Regions from separate parts of the Homo sapiens genome. Here region 1 is linked to region 2. A link means that fine-mapping ties the variant in region 2 to the expression of a gene that starts in the linked region. Tissue or cell type: thyroid. Region 2 holds a variant in brackets; the other region holds the start of a gene. All regions are shown on one strand. Distances are from middle to middle.

Region 1 (8,557 bases), 29 kb after region 2:
ACAAGTGGCCCGAGCTCATCTCAAGGTCCAGGAACCCTGGGGACTCACCCCTTCCTCTGGGCACCAGGAAGAGTGGTGGACCAGGGGTCCAGGTGCCAGCCTGGCATGTCCCACTTGGTCGAGTGTCCTTTCATCTCTGTTCAGGTTCCCATCCTGGAGATGGGCCACAAGGGATCCAGTCCAGGGCTGGGGGAGGCAGCCCTGTGGGAGGAGGCCCTTGCTAGTGAAGGGTCAGAGGCATTTGGAGATGGGCAGGCCCAGTGGGATTCTTGGGGCCACTGCCAGGATTTGGTTGTCGGTCCCTTCCTTGTGCCAGCCCCCTTTGCTGCTGCGTGTGGCTTTGATGAATAAGAGATGAGGAAGCATATTAATTATGGCTTAACATGCACCAAAGTTGGGCAGAGGGACTCCTAGGGATGGGAGTCCTCAGGGGTGCAGAACTGATGGGGGAAGACCAGGACACCCTCTGCAGCCCTGGGGATGGGGGATGGTGAGAGGCTTCTGGAGGAGGCAGAGGCTGTGGGCAAAGAGAGGGCTGAGAGAGGCTGCCAAGACGTGGGTCCACCTAAGCTCCCCAGACCTCCTTCTCTGGTCTGGAAAATGGGTGGTGGTAGTAGTGTCTACACTGCAGGACTGAATGGGATGACTCACTCAGCAGGCCTGGCACAGAGTCCTCTCGGGCCTTGGGCATGCAGCCACCCTCTGTGGTGAGAGCAGATGGCAGGCTGACGCCCCCCAGCTCCCTGGCACCGGGACCACATCCCTAGCCGCCCACTCAGAGTGCAGGGAAGGGTTGGTCACATTGACACGCTTGGGCAGCAGGCATGTGCTTGCCGCATGACCTTCTAGCTTCCTTCCTGGTCTCTCCTTGCATTGGCCTGGAGTGGCCCAGAATGTGTGGAGCAAAGACCCAATTTCCTTGCTGCCCATCCCTCCCCAGGAGACACCGAGGGCCTGGATGTCCGTGAGAACCGCACAGGCATGCCAAGGAAAGCCATGGCACGCCTATCTCTCCAGGCGGGAGATGAGCCTCCCGAAGCCCTGGGAAGAAGGGACCTTCCAAGGAGGCTGAACCGTGTCCCTGTCAGCCCAAGACGGGCCACTGCGAAAGGTCCCCTCATCTCAAGCTGGCTTCTATGGGCAGGCATGGAGTTTTGAGTGAAAACCCTGCATGATCCTCTCAGGGGACAGGAGGGGTGAACAAAGGAGGGACAGTGACCAGCTGACCAGGCCCTGAGGCATTAGCGTCTGCCTCGTCCACATGCTGTGCAAGCTCAGCGAGGCCAAGGGGCTGGGCCGAGGTCACACAGCTGGGCAGGGCCCTCATGACCGGCATGCTGGTCGTGGAGGCCGAGCCCCAGGTTGGGGGTGGGGGTGGGAGGTGAGGCAGCCCCTGGCCTCACTGGAGGGGGGTGGTGGGCTGGGGAAGCTGGCAAAGGATGTGCCCTACATGGTGGGTGTGAGGTGGGGAACGATTCGGGCAGATGCCCGTGTGGCCCTGCTGACCCAGTCCAGGCAGGGTGTGACAGGTCTGCCCAGCCCTGAGGTCACAGCTGTCTGCAGTCTCCAGCTCACTCCTGATCCCCAGGGCCACGTGTCCAGAAAGCCTGGGAGCTTGCATCAGCTGGGCACAGATGGCCTGTCCTCCCAGCACCCCTGCTGGGGCTTCCTAGGAACTGACTGGTGTAGACTCCGGGCAGCAGACGGCCAGGCTCTGCCCACAGGGTCCCTGGCTCCTCCCATGAGGTGACCCGATAGAACTGGCTGTGCCCCTTGACCAGGGGCTCCAGCCCTTGTCAAGCCCTCCCTGCTAGCCCCTCACCAGCCGTCAGCTGCCCTCCCTCCCTTGCCCGTTGGGCCCTGGGGGGGTGATGGCTCCGCGGTCGCCTGCCCAGAGAGTACACCACTCCCCATGCTGCCCCCCGACCTGGCTACACCCTGAAAAATGTGGCTTACCAAACCCTCCCACATGCACAGCCTGAGAAGCGGGCTGTGCCTTGCTGGTAGCAGACCGACCGGCTGCCTAGCCCTGCTCAACTCTGCCTCTGCACCCCCATAACTCCCTATCAGCGCTGGCCCACACCTAATCGTTCCAGCTAGCACCCAGGAGTGGGCTCAGCTTCCAGTGGGGAGGGCGCTGGCCAAGGTGCTGACCGAGGTGGCGGACACAGGAAACCAGCCGGTCCCCCAGCGCTCCCTCTGTGGGCCTTGGGCCTGCTCCCACTGCACAGACAGGTGGGGAGGTGGAGGCCCAGGTCCCAGCCCAGAGCAGCTGGGAACAGCCGGACTTGATGGCTGGAGAGGGCTGTGGTGCCAGAAGCCTCCAGGTTAGCCCTGGCTCCCCATTTCCCCCCATGCCCATCCCATGCCCCAGAATGGTCACTTTGGCTGCTGCAGGAGGGGTGGGAGGGGCTTTAAACCTATGAGATAGGGTGTGGGGTCACAATCTTCAATTGTAGTGGGCCGCTCTGGGTCACTGGTAATTGAAGAGACGCCTGCATAGTAAGCACGCAAGTGTCCTCTCAAGCCCTCTCTGCAAGCACAGAGCAGCCCGAGACTGGAGCCTGGTCCACCCCAGCGCTGTCCTCAGACTGATGGTCAGTGCCTCATGACTCATCTAGGGTCTGATACATCCCTGTGGTGAGAGCTCAGTTCCTAGTCTAGGGGCTGCTGCGTGCAGGGACCCTGGAGGAAGAATGCTTGTTTAGGGGTCAGGCCTCAGCCTCCCACTGGCTCTGTCAGCTTCGCCTGAGGTTCCCCATCTGTGCAATGGGTGATGACATCTTGGTGTGGCTCTGGGAGGACCTGTTGAGCCACCTCAGGGGCTGAGCTGGTGGCACTCGGCAGCCAGCACCCTCTGGGGAGGTGGCAGTGTGTGCACAGCCCACCCCTTCAGGAGGCCAGGGGACAGAGTGGCTGGGGGTGTCTGGGCCCCACCTCACCTTCTGTGTGGCTGGGAATGGCATGCACTCCACAATGCCCTCATAAGCCTAGGCTGGGACAAGGGTGATAGGGATAAAGCAGGCCAAGGTGATGAGGGCCACAGAGCGGCAGCCAGAGGCATGTGGGCAGTGCAGCCTCCACACCAGGCAGAGGGCCCGGCCAGCATGGCTCCACCCTGGGAAGCTGCCTGCCACTGGGATCAGATGGGAGCACCAGGGCTCTGGGAGGTCCTCACTTCCTCTGGACAAGGCAGGCAGGTCACCAGCCCTGTGCCCTGCTCATCTCCCTCAGGGCCACCTCCATGGCCAGGGGCAGGCAGAGAGCACAGGGCTGCCCAGTCACCAGGTCTCTCTGCTTCATATCAGTGGACCTGGGCTCTGAGGGGAGCCATCAAGACCTCAGGCTGGCCCACTCCGTCCTTGAGTCAGGGTCCTACAGACTGACACCAGGTTGGCCTGCAAGACCCTGGTCCTGTCATGCAGGGTGGGCCTGGGGAGGACCCAGCCCAGCTGAGCTGACTCCCAGCACTCCTCCAGGTGCAGGGACAGCCTGGCAGTTGTCTGAAGACCCCGGGATGGGCTTAGGAGCTCATCATCATCGGATGCCCCCCGAGCAGAAGACGGAGAAGGAACACCCCCACCCTGTGTGGTGTGTGTAGGGGTGTCACTGGGTTCTCTGGCTCCATGACGCCCCCCCGGCCCCGCTGGGGGCTGGCTTAGTAGAGTGGGGGATGATACTAAGCAGGCGGCCTCGGAGAGCGTCTTCTGGGTTTGGAGGCCACATTCCGCAGGAAGGAAGAGGTGGGGGACCCCTGCAGGGTTATGGGTAACATCAGGCCTGGGTCCCCTCCCTGGGGTGGTGCAGAGAGGGCCACAAAGGCCCAAGAGGGCCCCCAGAACGCTCTTAAGCCTTGAGCCTGTTTCTTACTGAAAAATGGGGGCGATCGTGCTCCAGCAAGGGGCTTCTGTGCAGGGGGCGGGGGGGGGCGGGGGGTTCATGGGTTTCGTGAGGCCAGGAAGCGAGTGGGTCGCGCAGAGGCCATCCCCAGGCCTCAATGGCCCCAGCCGCCATCCCCTCCGCCGCCTGCAGGGCCGCCGCCTCTTCAGGAATGCGCGGCTTTGTCTAGGGCCGGGTGGGCTGAGCACCTCCTGCTGCCCGGCCTACGCTCCCCGGCCAGCCGCGCCGCTCACGCCCCAACTTGGGCCCGCGCCCCCCAGCCCCCGCCCAGGCCCGCGCCCCCCAGCCCCCGCCCAGGCAGGCGCCTGCGCCCAGGTGAGGGCCCCGCCCGCCGCCGCCTCCCGCGCCCTGCGCGCCCGCGGCCCGAGCCCCGCCCGAGCCGGGCGGAGCGGAGCGCGCGGAGCCTAGACCCGCTGCCGGGCCGGGGCTGGGCCGGAGCGGCGGCGCCTGGATGCCGGCCCGGGGCTGGGCCGGAGACTGGCGCCCGCCCCGAAGCGACTTTCGGTCCCCGACCCGCTCCGCCTGACCCCTATGATGAAGAGGGCGTCCACTGGAGGTGAGTGTCCACGCGGCGCCAGAGCCCAGCAGGCGGCGGGGCGCAGAGCGGGGTGGTTCGCCCCTCCTCGGAGCCGCAGGGCCCGTCCAGGGCTTCCAAGGCTGGGGAAGCGTAGCCGGGCGGCCGGGAGGGCCACCGCAGTGCCGCGCCAGGCTGGGGCCAAGGGCGCCCCGGCCCCGGGAGGGCGGAGCCGGAGGCAGCAGGAAAAGTTGCCGCTTCCCGGGTAAGTTGACGGCGATGGCGGGGCCGGGGGTGGCGGCCCGGGGGTCCCCGAGGCTGGGCCAGGTCCGGGGTGGGGGCCGCGGGCTGGAAGGACGGGGTCCGGCCTCGGCGCCGCGGCCACGAAGGGGTTAATGAGCGGGTTTTTTTGCAGAAACGCGGGTACCGAGAGTAGGTGGAGGTATCGGGCCGCCTCCGCCCCCGCCTCGCGGACTGGGCTCAGAACCTCCCGTTTTTCTGAGGTCAGGCCTCAGGGGGATCAATGGGGGCGTTGGCGGCAGTAGAGGGCGTGGGGGACAAGGTTGTCCCAACGCTGCCTCCAGGGCGGGCGGTGAGAGGAGGCAGCAATGCCCAGACATCCGCAGCCCGAGGGACATTGAGAGGCTTGGCTGGGGGAATCAGGGGTGGTGGGGCAATCAGCATCCCCTCCCTGGCAGCCTTCGTGAGACTCCCCCGCCCCACTGGGTGTGAGGTCCCGCAGTGGGGGGCAAGGGAGGGTGGGCTCCATGTGAGTTGGGCATGCCCTGCCTGGAGGGTGCTCCCCAGGTGCCCACCCAGGCTGCCCTGCTGATGTCCATGGTGTCGCAGGCTGCACACACGTTTCCTTGCACGTGCACATGTCTACACGGACTGCACACTTGCACACCTCTGGTGCACATGCGTGCCAGCGCCACCCCAGTGTACACATGCACGAACACTGGGTGCACACACGGACTCTGAGGGTGCATATCTGTGTCCTCGCCCCCGCTTGCACGCCCACGGCCACACATGCATGTACGCGACATGCCTGCTGTGGTCTCCACGGGTGGCACATGCTGGGGCCCCTTTCACAATACCCACTCCCGCACCCACATGCTCGTCTGTTGAGTGGGGAGGCCAGGCCCACAGACAGGGGCAAGACATCCTGGGCCCCACCTCTGCCTGCCTGCCTCCGTGTCCTGGGGGTCCCCGCCTCGGGCGTGTGTGCGTGTGTGTAACTTGGTATGCATCTGCACGTGTGTCTGTGCGCGTGATCATGTGTGCCTGCGAGCACATAGGCATATGTCTCTTTGCCTCCAGGGTGTGGGTGCCCCTTGTGTGCCTAGACAGGCTGTGGCCTAATCTGGAGCAGAGGCCCTGGAATGTGTGTTGGGGGCTCATTGAATGCCCCCAGCCCAGGGTGTGAGGGGCAGGGTCTCCCAGCCACTCCGCACCCACCAGGGCTGAGGCAGTGATAGATGATGGTGGGCTGGAACCTGTCTGGTCAGGGAAGACCCATTTCAGGCCATGAGGTCAACACTGTGACCAACAGGCCAGACCCTGGGCACCCTTGGTGGCCGCTGCAGCTTGGCTGACTGGAGCACGTGACCCAGCGTGACTGCAGAGGCCCCGCCTCCAGTACCTCAGTTTCTCCATGGTGAGGACCTTCTTGGTGAGGGGTTCCGTGGTGGGCTCCCCTACCTCCGGTGTTGTGTAGGGTGCTGAGCAGATGGATGCCATGCTGCATGATGGGCAAGGGTGGCCCACTAGCACTGTGGCAAGGGCCCTGGGCTGGGGCTTCAATTGGCAGGCCACACCTCCTGCTCCCCTGGCCACCACCAGAGGCTCATCTATAGAGTGGGGACCAGCAGGTTATCCTTGTAGGTTGTGTGAGGGTGAAACATACTAGCAGAGGGGCAGCTGAAGCAGTGGGGCTGGCCAGTCTCTTTTTCTAAGCCTCAGTCTTCCCATCTATAAAGGGGGTACTGTTCCCTGTTCTTCTCTACTGAGGTGAGGAGGAAGTGAGCTCCCATGCCGGGGGTGGGAATGGGTGGCCATCAGCACCTAGACCCCACCTGGCAGAGGGGCACGTGCAGGGCCTGCCGTGGCAGAACCGTGACCTGGATTTGGGTCCTGGCTCAGCCACCTGCTGGCAGTGTGACCTTGGGTGTGACAGGTCACCTCTCTGCCTCAGTCTTCCTCACCTGCACCATGGGCCAGTGGTCAGGGATTATCGGGGCACTTCCAGGCTGAGGCTGGGCGGAATTGGCCCGGCTTTCCCTGTGGAGTTCCGACTCTGGTGCTTCTGCCTCAGAATGCCCAGAACACCTCCCCACACCCCAACTCAGCAGAGTCCTCCTGGGACCTTTGCATGGCCAGCTGGCCCCTCACCCCATCCATTTGCAGAAGGGACAATAAAAGCCCCTAGTCAGGCAACTCAGGCCACAGGTGAGTGGAGAGGGGACAGGGCAGGGATGCTGCCCAGCTTGGGAGACCCTCCCATAGTACCTTCACTCCCTCCCTGCCCTCCCCCTGTTCCTCACCTGGGGGTCTGTGGAACCCCTGAGCCTCAGTTTCCCTGTGCCAGGGTCCTTCCACTGGGACTGGCAGAAACGTAGGTTTGCATGGAGTGAGAAGCAGGGGAGAGGTTGAGGGAGGGCCTGGCCCAGCAGGTCTCTGAAAGCCAGAGGGCTTGTGGAGGGTCTATGGAGGACACCCCCACAGGGGCTGGGGCCCTGGAAGGTGGGGGAAGGTCCTGTTGTCCTGGGAGGCTGGGGACTGGCCCACAGCCTGTGGAGGGGCTGGGGTTTGTTTGCTGTTGCTGTGAGTGACAGGCAGGCTGTGAGGGCCAGGGCATGTGGGACCGTGCCCTCCGCCTCCCTCTGCCCAAGGACAGTGCAGCCTTGTAGCACTGCCCTCTCCTCGTCCCTGCCCCAGCCTTGAATTCATGCTTTGTGGCACGGACGGCCCTGTGCAGCCGGTGCAACACCAGGAGGGTCCAGCTGGTGAGGACAGGACGGGTGGGAGGCAGAGGAGCCCTCCTGCTGTCCTGGGCCTGTGGCCCGGAACCTCTCACCGGGAGCCTTGGTCTGTGCACCTGGGAAAGGGGTCAAGAACAGGAAGCATACGGGGAGTTTCAGGATGACCTGGAAATGAACAAATGCATGTGTGAGCCAGGCGCCCTGCCCGGCCCTGGCACAGGGTTAGTGAGGGCTCCCGACGCTTGGCTACTGTCTGATCAATGAGGTTCATGCCGTCCCGCCCCCATTCTGGCAAGCCTGACCTCTGATCCCCAGGCTGGCCTGCCTGACCCTCTGCAGCCACCCAGGGCCTGGGCTTTGGGGTCTGCAGGAGCCGGCCTGGCTGCCTGCTGCCTCTGCAGCTGTGCAGATGCCCTCTCGGGGCCCTCTCTGCACCCCTCAGTGTCCCTGCTCTGCAGCCTGGCTGCACCCAGGCCAAGGTCACAGGCACCCTCCTCGAAGCCAGATCCCAGATGCTGCATTTGCCCCAACTGTCCGTTCACTTTCTCATTTGTTCATTCATTTGCTTGTTCGTTCCTAGCCTGTCAGATTCTCTTCTGAGCCAGGCAAATCAAGGGGTGCAATCCTTGGCATCGTGCATCTCTAGGATTAAATGCTTTAAAGGATAGGAGGTAACAGAGTGGCCCCGGGGAAGCCCGATCGGAGTGGCGGGCATGCTACCCCACCCTGCAAATCTCCCTGCACTGTCCCTGGGGCCCAGCTGGGTTCCCCACACCAGTTGTTCTGTGCTGCCGTTTCTTCTTTTATCGCTGTATTTTAAACACTTTGCACATCGGGAACTATTCTTGTGCATCGTGGGTTTTCTGGTGTGTGTGGAATCCCTTCCTGAGAATGCACCATCATTTATTTATCCAAACCTGCACCGGCCTCCTGCACTGCCTGCAGCCGTGGAGCTGGGCACCGGGAGATGCAGCTCTGCACACCCACCCCACCATGTCCTCAGCTGGCACCCACCAGGTCTAGGGGCTGGTCACGTGCCTCTCCCCTGATGCTTGAGCTGATTTCAGGGGACTCGGCAGCAGGGCCAGATCCCGCCCCTCCTAGCCAGCTGAGGCCTTTGACAACCGTGGGCTGGCCGGGTGGGTGATGGTGAGTGAGTAGA
Region 2 (8,557 bases):
TGATCCGCCCGCCTCCGCCTCCCAGAGTGCTGGGATTACAGGCGTGAGCCACCACGCCCGGTGAATTTTTTTTTTTAAAGAAAGATTCCGGACACAAACGGCCACAAGTTGTATGGTTCGTTTTATATGAAGAGTTCAGAATAGACAAATCGATAGAGACAGAAGTCACACGAAGACAAGCCCATAGTGGAGCCTGGTGAGTATGGCACTGGCAGTGGTGCCTGGAGGTGGAGGACGGGAGGAGTGGGAGGGGCTGCCAAGGCCCACGGAGTTTCTTTGGGGTCCGGAAATACTCTGGGGCTAGAGAGTGGTGATGTTTGCTCAACCTTGTGTATAGACTAAAAAACCATTCAATATCTCAATAAAGCTGTTATATTTTTTTAAAAAAGCAAAGTTCTAGCATTTGCTTCAAGGAAGCCTGTGGCCCTGCACAGAGGCAAAGGTGGGCAGGGGCTGCCAGGGGCAGGGCTGCAGAGAGGGCAGGGGGAGAAGCGAGGGGTGCAGGGATCACAGAGATCACCACTCACGTCCAGACCATAGCAGAGCAGGCCTAGCGCTGGGTGCCCAGGCCCACGGGAGAGCCCACCTGTGAGGGCACCTGTGGGAACAAGGCTGGCCTGAAAGTCACTGGCTCCATGTGACAATCAATGAAACAACCGAGTTTCACAGGAGCTCTGTAAATCCTAGGAAGCAGGTCTTAGGCTCAGCTGGGGACCCTTGGCAGGTGGCTACCCTGAGCCAGCTGATGGCTTTTTTTTTTTTTTTTTTTAAGAGACAGGGTCTCTCTCTGTTGCCCAAGCTGGAGTGCAGCCATGTGATCACAGCTCACTGTGGCCTTGAACTCCTGGTGTCTCATGTGTCCCTGTGAAGGGACCACCAACCAGCTTTGTATGAGCAACAAGGCTGTTTATTTCACCTGGGTGCAGGCAGGCTGAGTCCAAAAAAGGAGTCAGCAAAGGGTGGTGGGATTATCATTAGTTCTTACAGGTTTTGGGATAGGCAGTGGAGTTAAGAGCAATGTTCTGGGGGCAGGGGTGGATCTCACAAAGTACCTTCTCAAGGGTGGGGAGAATTACCAAGAACCTTCTTAAGGGTGGGGGAGATTATGAAGTACATTGATCAGTTAGGGTGGGGCAGAAACAAATCACAATGGTGGAATGTCATCAGTTAAGGCTATTTTCACTTCTTCTGTGGATCTTCAGTTGCTTCAGCCCATCTGGATGTATCCGTGCAGGTCACAAGGGATATGATGGCTTAGCTTGGGCTCAGAGGCCTGACACCTGGGCTCAAGTGATCCCCCTGCCTCAACCTCCCAAGTAGCTGGGACTACAGGCTGGACTGCACCTAGCTAATTTTTAAAAAATATTTTTTTGTGGAGACAGGGTCTGGCTGTGTTACCCAGTGTGGGGAAAAGCAAGAGAGATCAGATTGTTACTGTGTCTGTGTAGAAAGAAGTAGACATAGGAGACTCCATTTTGTTATGTGCTAAGAAAAATTCTTCTGCCTTGAGATTCTGTTAATCTATAACCTTACCCCCAACCCCGTGCTCTCTGAAACGTGTGCTGTGTCAACTCAGAGTTAAATGGATTAAGGGCGGTGCAGGATGTGCTTTGTTAAGCAGATGCTTGAAGGCAGCCTGCTCCTTAAGAGTCATCACCACTCCCTAATCTCAAGTACCCAGGGACACAAAAACTGCGGAAGGCCGCAGGGACCTCTGCCTAGGAAAGCCAGGTATTGTCCAAGGTTTCTCCCCATGTGATAGTCTGAAATATGGCCTCGTGGGAAGGGAAAGACCTGACCGTCCCCCAGCCCGACACCCGTAAAGGGTCTGTGCTGAGGAGAATTAGTAAAAGAGGAAGGAATGCCTCTTGCAGTTGAGACAAGAGGAAGGCATCTGTCTCCTGCCTGTCCCTGGGCAATGGAATGTCTCGGTATAAAACCCGATTGTATGCTCCATCTACTGAGATAGGGAAAAACCGCCTTAGGGCTGGAGGTGGGACCTGCGGGCAGCAATACTGCTTTGTAAAGCATTGAGATGTTTATGTGTATGCATATCTAAAAGCACAGCACTTAATCCTTTACATTGTCTATGATGCAAAGACCTTTGTTCACGTGTTTGTCTGCTGACCCTCTCCCCACAATTGTCTTGTGACCCTGACACATCCCCCTCTTCGAGAAACACCCACAAATGATGAATAAATACTAAGGGAACTCAGAGGCTGGCGGGATCCTCCATATGCTGAACGCTGGTTCCCCGGTTCCCCTTATTTCTTTCTCTATACTTTGTCTCTGTGTCTTTTTCTTTTCCAAATCTCTCGTCCCACCTTACGAGAAACACCCACAGGTGTGTAGGGGCAACCCACCCCTACATCTGGTGCCCAACATGGAGGCTTTTCTCTAGGGTGAAGGTACGCTCGAGCGTGGTCATTGAGGACAAGTCGACGAGAGATCCCGAGTACGTCTACAGTCAGCCTTACGGTAAGCTTGTGCGCTCGGAAGAAGCTAGGGTGATAATGGGGCAAACTAAAAGTAAAATTAAAAGTAAATATGCCTCTTATCTCAGCTTTATTAAAATTCTTTTAAAAAGAGGGGGAGTTAAAGTATCTACAAAAAATCTAATCAAGCTATTTCAAATAATAGAACAATTTTGCCCATGGTTTCCAGAACAAGGAACTTTAGATCTAAAAGATTGGAAAAGAATTGGTAAGGAACTAAAACAAGCAGGTAGGAAGGGTAATATCATTCCACTTACAGTATGGAATGATTGGGCCATTATTAAAGCAGCTTTAGAACCATTTCAAACAGAAGAAGATAGCGTTTCAGTTTCTGATGCCCCTGGAAGCTGTTTAATAGATTGTAATGAAAAGACAAGGAAAAAATCCCAGAAAGAAACGGAAAGTTTACATTGCGAATATGTAGCAGAGCCGGTAATGGCTCAGTCAACGCAAAATGTTGACTATAATCAATTACAGGAGGTGATATATCCTGAAACGTTAAAATTAGAAGGAAAAGGTCCAGAATTAGTGGGGCCATCAGAGTCTAAACCACGAGGGACAAGTCCTCTTCCAGCAGGTCAGGTGCCCGTAACATTACAACCTCAAAAGCAGGTTAAAGAAAATAAGACCCAACCGCCAGTAGCCTATCAATACTGGCCTCCGGCTGAACTTCAGTATCGGCCACCCCCAGAAAGTCAGTATGGATATCCAGGAATGCCCCCAGCACCACAGGGCAGGGCGCCATACCCTCAGCCGCCCACTAGGAGACTTAATCCTACGGCACCACCTAGTAGACAGGGTAGTGAATTACATGAAATTATTGATAAATCAAGAAAGGAAGGAGATACTGAGGCATGGCAATTCCCAGTAACGTTAGAACCGATGCCACCTGGAGAAGGAGCCCAAGAGGGAGAGCCTCCCACAGTTGAGGCCAGATACAAGTCTTTTTCGATAAAAATGCTAAAAGATATGAAAGAGGGAGTAAAACAGTATGGACCCAACTCCCCTTATATGAGGACATTATTAGATTCCATTGCTTATGGACATAGACTCATTCCTTATGATTGGGAGATTCTGGCAAAATCGTCTCTCTCACCCTCTCAATTTTTACAATTTAAGACTTGGTGGATTGATGGGGTACAAGAACAGGTCCGAAGAAATAGGGCTGCCAATCCTCCAGTTAACATAGATGCAGATCAACTATTAGGAATAGGTCAAAATTGGAGTACTATTAGTCAACAAGCATTAATGCAAAATGAGGCCATTGAGCAAGTTAGAGCTATCTGCCTTAGAGCCTGGGAAAAAATCCAAGACCCAGGAAGTGCCTGCCCCTCATTTAATACAGTAAGACAAGGTTCAAAAGAGCCCTATCCTGATTTTGTGGCAAGGCTCCAAGATGTTGCTCAAAAGTCAATTGCCGATGAAAAAGCCCGTAAGGTCATAGTGGAGTTGATGGCATATGAAAACGCCAATCCTGAGTGTCAATCAGCCATTAAGCCATTAAAAGGAAAGGTTCCTGCAGGATCAGATGTAATCTCAGAATATGTAAAAGCCTGTGATGGAATCGGAGGAGCTATGCATAAAGCTATGCTTATGGCTCAAGCAATAACAGGAGTTGTTTTAGGAGGACAAGTTAGAACATTTGGAGGAAAATGTTATAATTGTGGTCAAATTGGTCACTTAAAAAAGAATTGCCCAGTCTTAAACAAACAGAATATAACTATTCAAGCAACTACAACAGGTAGAGAGCCACCTGACTTATGTCCAAGATGTAAAAAAGGAAAACATTGGGCTAGTCAATGTCGTTCTAAATTTGATAAAAATGGGCAACCATTGTCGGGAAACGAGCAAAGGGGCCAGCCTCAGGCCCCACAACAAACTGGGGCATTCCCAATTCAGCCATTTGTTCCTCAGGGTTTTCAGGGACAACAACCCCCACTGTCCCAAGTGTTTCAGGGAATAAGCCAGTTACCACAATACAACAATTGTCCCCTGCCACAAGCAGCAGTGCAGCAGTAGATTTATGTACTATACAAGCAGTCTCTCTGCTTCCAGGGGAGCCCCCACAAAAAATCCCCACAGGGGTATATGGCCCCCTGCCTGAGGGGACTGTAGGACTAATCTTAGGAAGATCAAGTCTAAATCTAAAAGGAGTTCAAATTCATACTAGTGTGGTTGATTCAGACTATAAAGGCGAAATTCAGTTGGTTATTAGCTCTTCAATTCCTTGGAGTGCCAGTCCAGGAGACAGGAGTGCTCAATTATTACTCCTGCCATATATTAAGGGTGGAAATAGTGAACTAAAAAAAATAGGAGGGCTTGGAAGCACTGATCCAACAGGAAAGGCTGCATATTGGGCAAGTCAGGTCTCAGAGAACAGACCTGTGTGTAAGGCCATTATTCAAGGAAAACAGTTTGAAGGGTTGGTAGACACTGGAGCAGATGTCTCTATCATT[G/A]CTTTAAATCAGTGGCCAAAAAATTGGCCTAAACAAAAGGCTGTTACAGGACTTGTCGGCATAGGCACAGCCTCAGAAGTGTATCAAAGTACGGAGATTTTACATTGCTTAGGGCCAGATAATCAAGAAAGTACTGTTCAGCCAATGATTACTTCAATTCCTCTTAATCTGTGGGGTTGAGATTTATTACAACAATGGGGTGCGGAAATCACCATGCCCGCTCCATTATATAGCCCCACGAGTCAAAAAATCATGACCAAGATGGGATATATACCAGGAAAGGGACTAGGGAAAAATGAAGATGGCATTAAAATTCCATTTGAGGCTAAAATAAATCAAAAAAGAGAAGGAATAGGGTATCCTTTTTAGGGGCGGCCACTATAGAGCCTCCTAAACCCATACCATTAACTTGGAAAACAGAAAAACCGGTGTGGGTAAATCAGTGGCCGCTACCAAAACAAAAACTGGAGGCTTTACATTTATTAGTAAATGAACAGTTAGAAAAGGGTCATATTGAGCCTTCGTTCTCACCTTGGAATTCTCCTGTGTTTGTAATTCAGAAGAAATCAGGCAAATGGCGTATGTTAACTGACTTAAGGGCCGTAAACGCCTTAATTCAACCCATGGGGCCTCTCCAACCCGGGTTGCCCTCTCCGGCCATAATCCCAAAAGATTAGCCTTTAATTATAATTGATCTAAAGGATTGCTTTTTTACCATCCCTCTGGCAGAGCAGGATTGTGAAAAATTTGCCTTTACTATACCAGCCATAAATAATAAAGAACCAGCCACCAGGTTTCAGTGGAAAGTGTTACCTCAGGGAATGCTTAATAGTCCAACTATTTGTCAGACTTTTGTAGGTCGAGCTCTTCAACCAGTTAGAGAAAAGTTTTCAGACTGTTATATTATTCATTATATTGATGATATTTTATGTGCTGCAGAAACGAAAGATAAATTAATTGACTGTTATACATTTCTGCAAGCAGAGGTTGCCAATGCTGGACTGGCAATAGCATCTGATAAGATCCAAACCTCTACTCCTTTTCATTATTTAGGGATGCAGATAGAAAATAGAAAAATTAAGCCACAAAAATAGAAATAAGAAAAGATACATTAAAAACACTAAATGATTTTCAAAAATTACTAGGAGATATTAATTGGATTCGGCCAACTCTAGGCATTCCTACTTATGCCATGTCAAATTTGTTCTCTATCTTAAGAGGAGACTCAGACTTAAATAGTAAAAGAATATTAACCCCAGAGGCAACAAAAGAAATTAAATTAGTGGAAGAAAAAATTCAGTCAGCGCAAATAAATAGAATAGATCCCTTAGCCCCACTCCAGCTTTTGATTTTTGCCACTGCACATTCTCCAACAGGCATCATTATTCAAAATACTGATCTTGTGGAGTGGTCATTCCTTCCTCACAGTACAGTTAAGACTTTTACATTGTACTTGGATCAAATGGCTACATTAATCGGTCAGACAAGATTACGAATAATAAAATTATGTGGAAATGACCAAGACAAAATAGTTGTCCCTTTAACCAAGGAACAAGTTAGACAAGCCTTTATCAATTCTGGTGCATGGCAGATTGGTCTTGCTAATTTTGTGGGAATTATTGATAATCATTACCCAAAAACAAAGATCTTCCAGTTCTTAAAATTGACTACTTGGATTCTACCTAAAATAACCAGACGTGAACCTTTAGAAAATGCTCTAACAGTATTTACTGATGGTTCCAGCAATGGAAAAGCAGCTTACACAGGGCCGAAAGAACGAGTAATCAAAACTCCATATCAATCGGCTCAAAGAGCAGAGTTGGTTGCAGTCATTACAGTGTTACAAGATTTTGACCAACCTATCAATATTATATCAGATTCTGCCTATGTAGTACAGGCTACAAGGGATGTTGAGACGGCTCTAATTAAATATAGCATGGATGATCAGTTAAACCAGCTATTCAATTTATTACAACAAACTGTAAGAAAAAGAAATTTCCCATTTTATATTACTCATATTCGAGCACACACTAATTTACCAGGGCCTTTGACTAAAGCAAATGAACAAGCTGACTTACTGGTATCATCTGCACTCATAAAAGCACAAGAACTTCATGCTTTGACTCATGTAAATGCAGCAGGATTAAAAAACAAATTTGATGTCACATGGAAACAGGCAAAAGATATTGTACAACATTGCACCCAGTGTCAAGTCTTACACCTGCCCACTCAAGAGGCAGGAGTTAATCCCAGAGGTCTGTGTCCTAATGCATTATGGCAAATGGATGTCACGCATGTACCTTCATTTGGAAGATTATCATATGTTCATGTAACAGTTGATACTTATTCACATTTCATATGGGCAACTTGCCAAACAGGAGAAAGTACTTCCCATGTTAAAAAACATTTATTGTCTTGTTTTGCTGTAATGGGAGTTCCAGAAAAAATCAAAACTGACAATGGACCAGGATATTGTAGTAAAGCTTTCCAAAAATTCTTAAGTCAGTGGAAAATTTCACATACAACAGGAATTCCTTATAATTCCCAAGGACAGGCCATAGTTGAAAGAACTAATAGAACACTCAAAACTCAATTAGTTAAACAAAAAGAAGGGGGAGACAGTAAGGAGTGTACCACTCCTCAGATGCAACTTAATCTAGCACTCTATACTTTAAATTTTTTAAACATTTATAGAAATCAGACTACTACTTCTGCAGAACAACATCTTACTGGTAAAAAGAACAGCCCACATGAAGGAAAACTAATTTGGTGGAAAGATAATAAAAATAAGACATGGGAAATAGGGAAGGTGATAACGTGGGGGAGAGGTTTTGCTTGTGTTTCACCAGGAGAAAATCAGCTTCCTGTTTGGATACCCACTAGACATTTGAAGTTCTACAATGAACCCATCGGAGATGCAAAGAAAAGGGCCTCCGCGGAGATGGTAACACCAGTCACATGGATGGATAATCCTATAGAAGTATATGTTAATGATAGCGAATGGGTACCTGGCCCCACAGATGATCGCTGCCCTGCCAAACCTGAGGAAGAAGGGATGATGATAAATATTTCCATTGGGTATCGTTATCCTCCTATTTGCTTAGGGACAGCACCAGGATGTTTAATGCCTGCAGTCCAAAATTGGTTGGTAGAAGTACCTATTGTCAGTCCCATCAGTAGATTCACTTATCACATGGTAAGCGGGATGTCACTCAGGCCACGGGTAAATTATTTACAAGACTTTCCTTATCAAAGATCATTAAAATTTAGACCTAAAGGGAAACCTTGCCCCAAGGAAATTCCCAAAGAATCAAAAAATACAGAAGTTTTAGTTTGGGAAGAATGTGTGGCCAATAGTGCGGTGATATTACAAAACAATGAATTCGGAACTATTATAGATTGGGCACCTCGAGGTCAATTCTACCACAATTGCTCAGGACAAACTCAGTCATGTCCAAGTGCACAAGTGAGTCCAGCTGTTGATAGCGACTTAACAGAAAGTTTAGACAAACATAAGCATAAAAAATTGCAGTCTTTCTACCCTTGGGAATGGGGAGAAAAAGGAATCTCTACCCCAAGACCAAAAATAATAAGTCCTGTTTCTGG

Evidence for each region. PIP is the estimated chance that this variant, and not a neighbour inherited with it, causes the effect.
Region 1: it holds the start of DGCR5, and the variant in region 2 is fine-mapped to the expression of DGCR5 in thyroid (GTEx, PIP 0.94).

What each region holds. Positions count from the first base shown.
Region 1 is chr22:18,966,203-18,974,759 of GRCh38, forward strand. DGCR5 (DiGeorge syndrome critical region gene 5) reads left to right here and starts at 4,266. Exons shown (of 6, transcript NR_110533.2): 1 at 4,266-4,456. RefSeq lists an enhancer at 3,347-4,178.
Region 2 is chr22:18,937,272-18,945,828 of GRCh38, forward strand. LOC122455341 (a long non-coding RNA gene) reads left to right here. Exons shown (of 4, transcript NR_173080.2): 2 at 81-196; 3 at 2,402-2,478. Among named protein-coding and RNA genes, the nearest start is that of PRODH, 5.3 kb to the left of the region's middle. RefSeq lists a promoter at 1-2,466, enhancers at 1,402-2,466, 1,425-1,719, 1,581-2,088 and a silencer at 1,425-1,719. The variant G/A (reference allele first, on the strand shown) is at 4,952.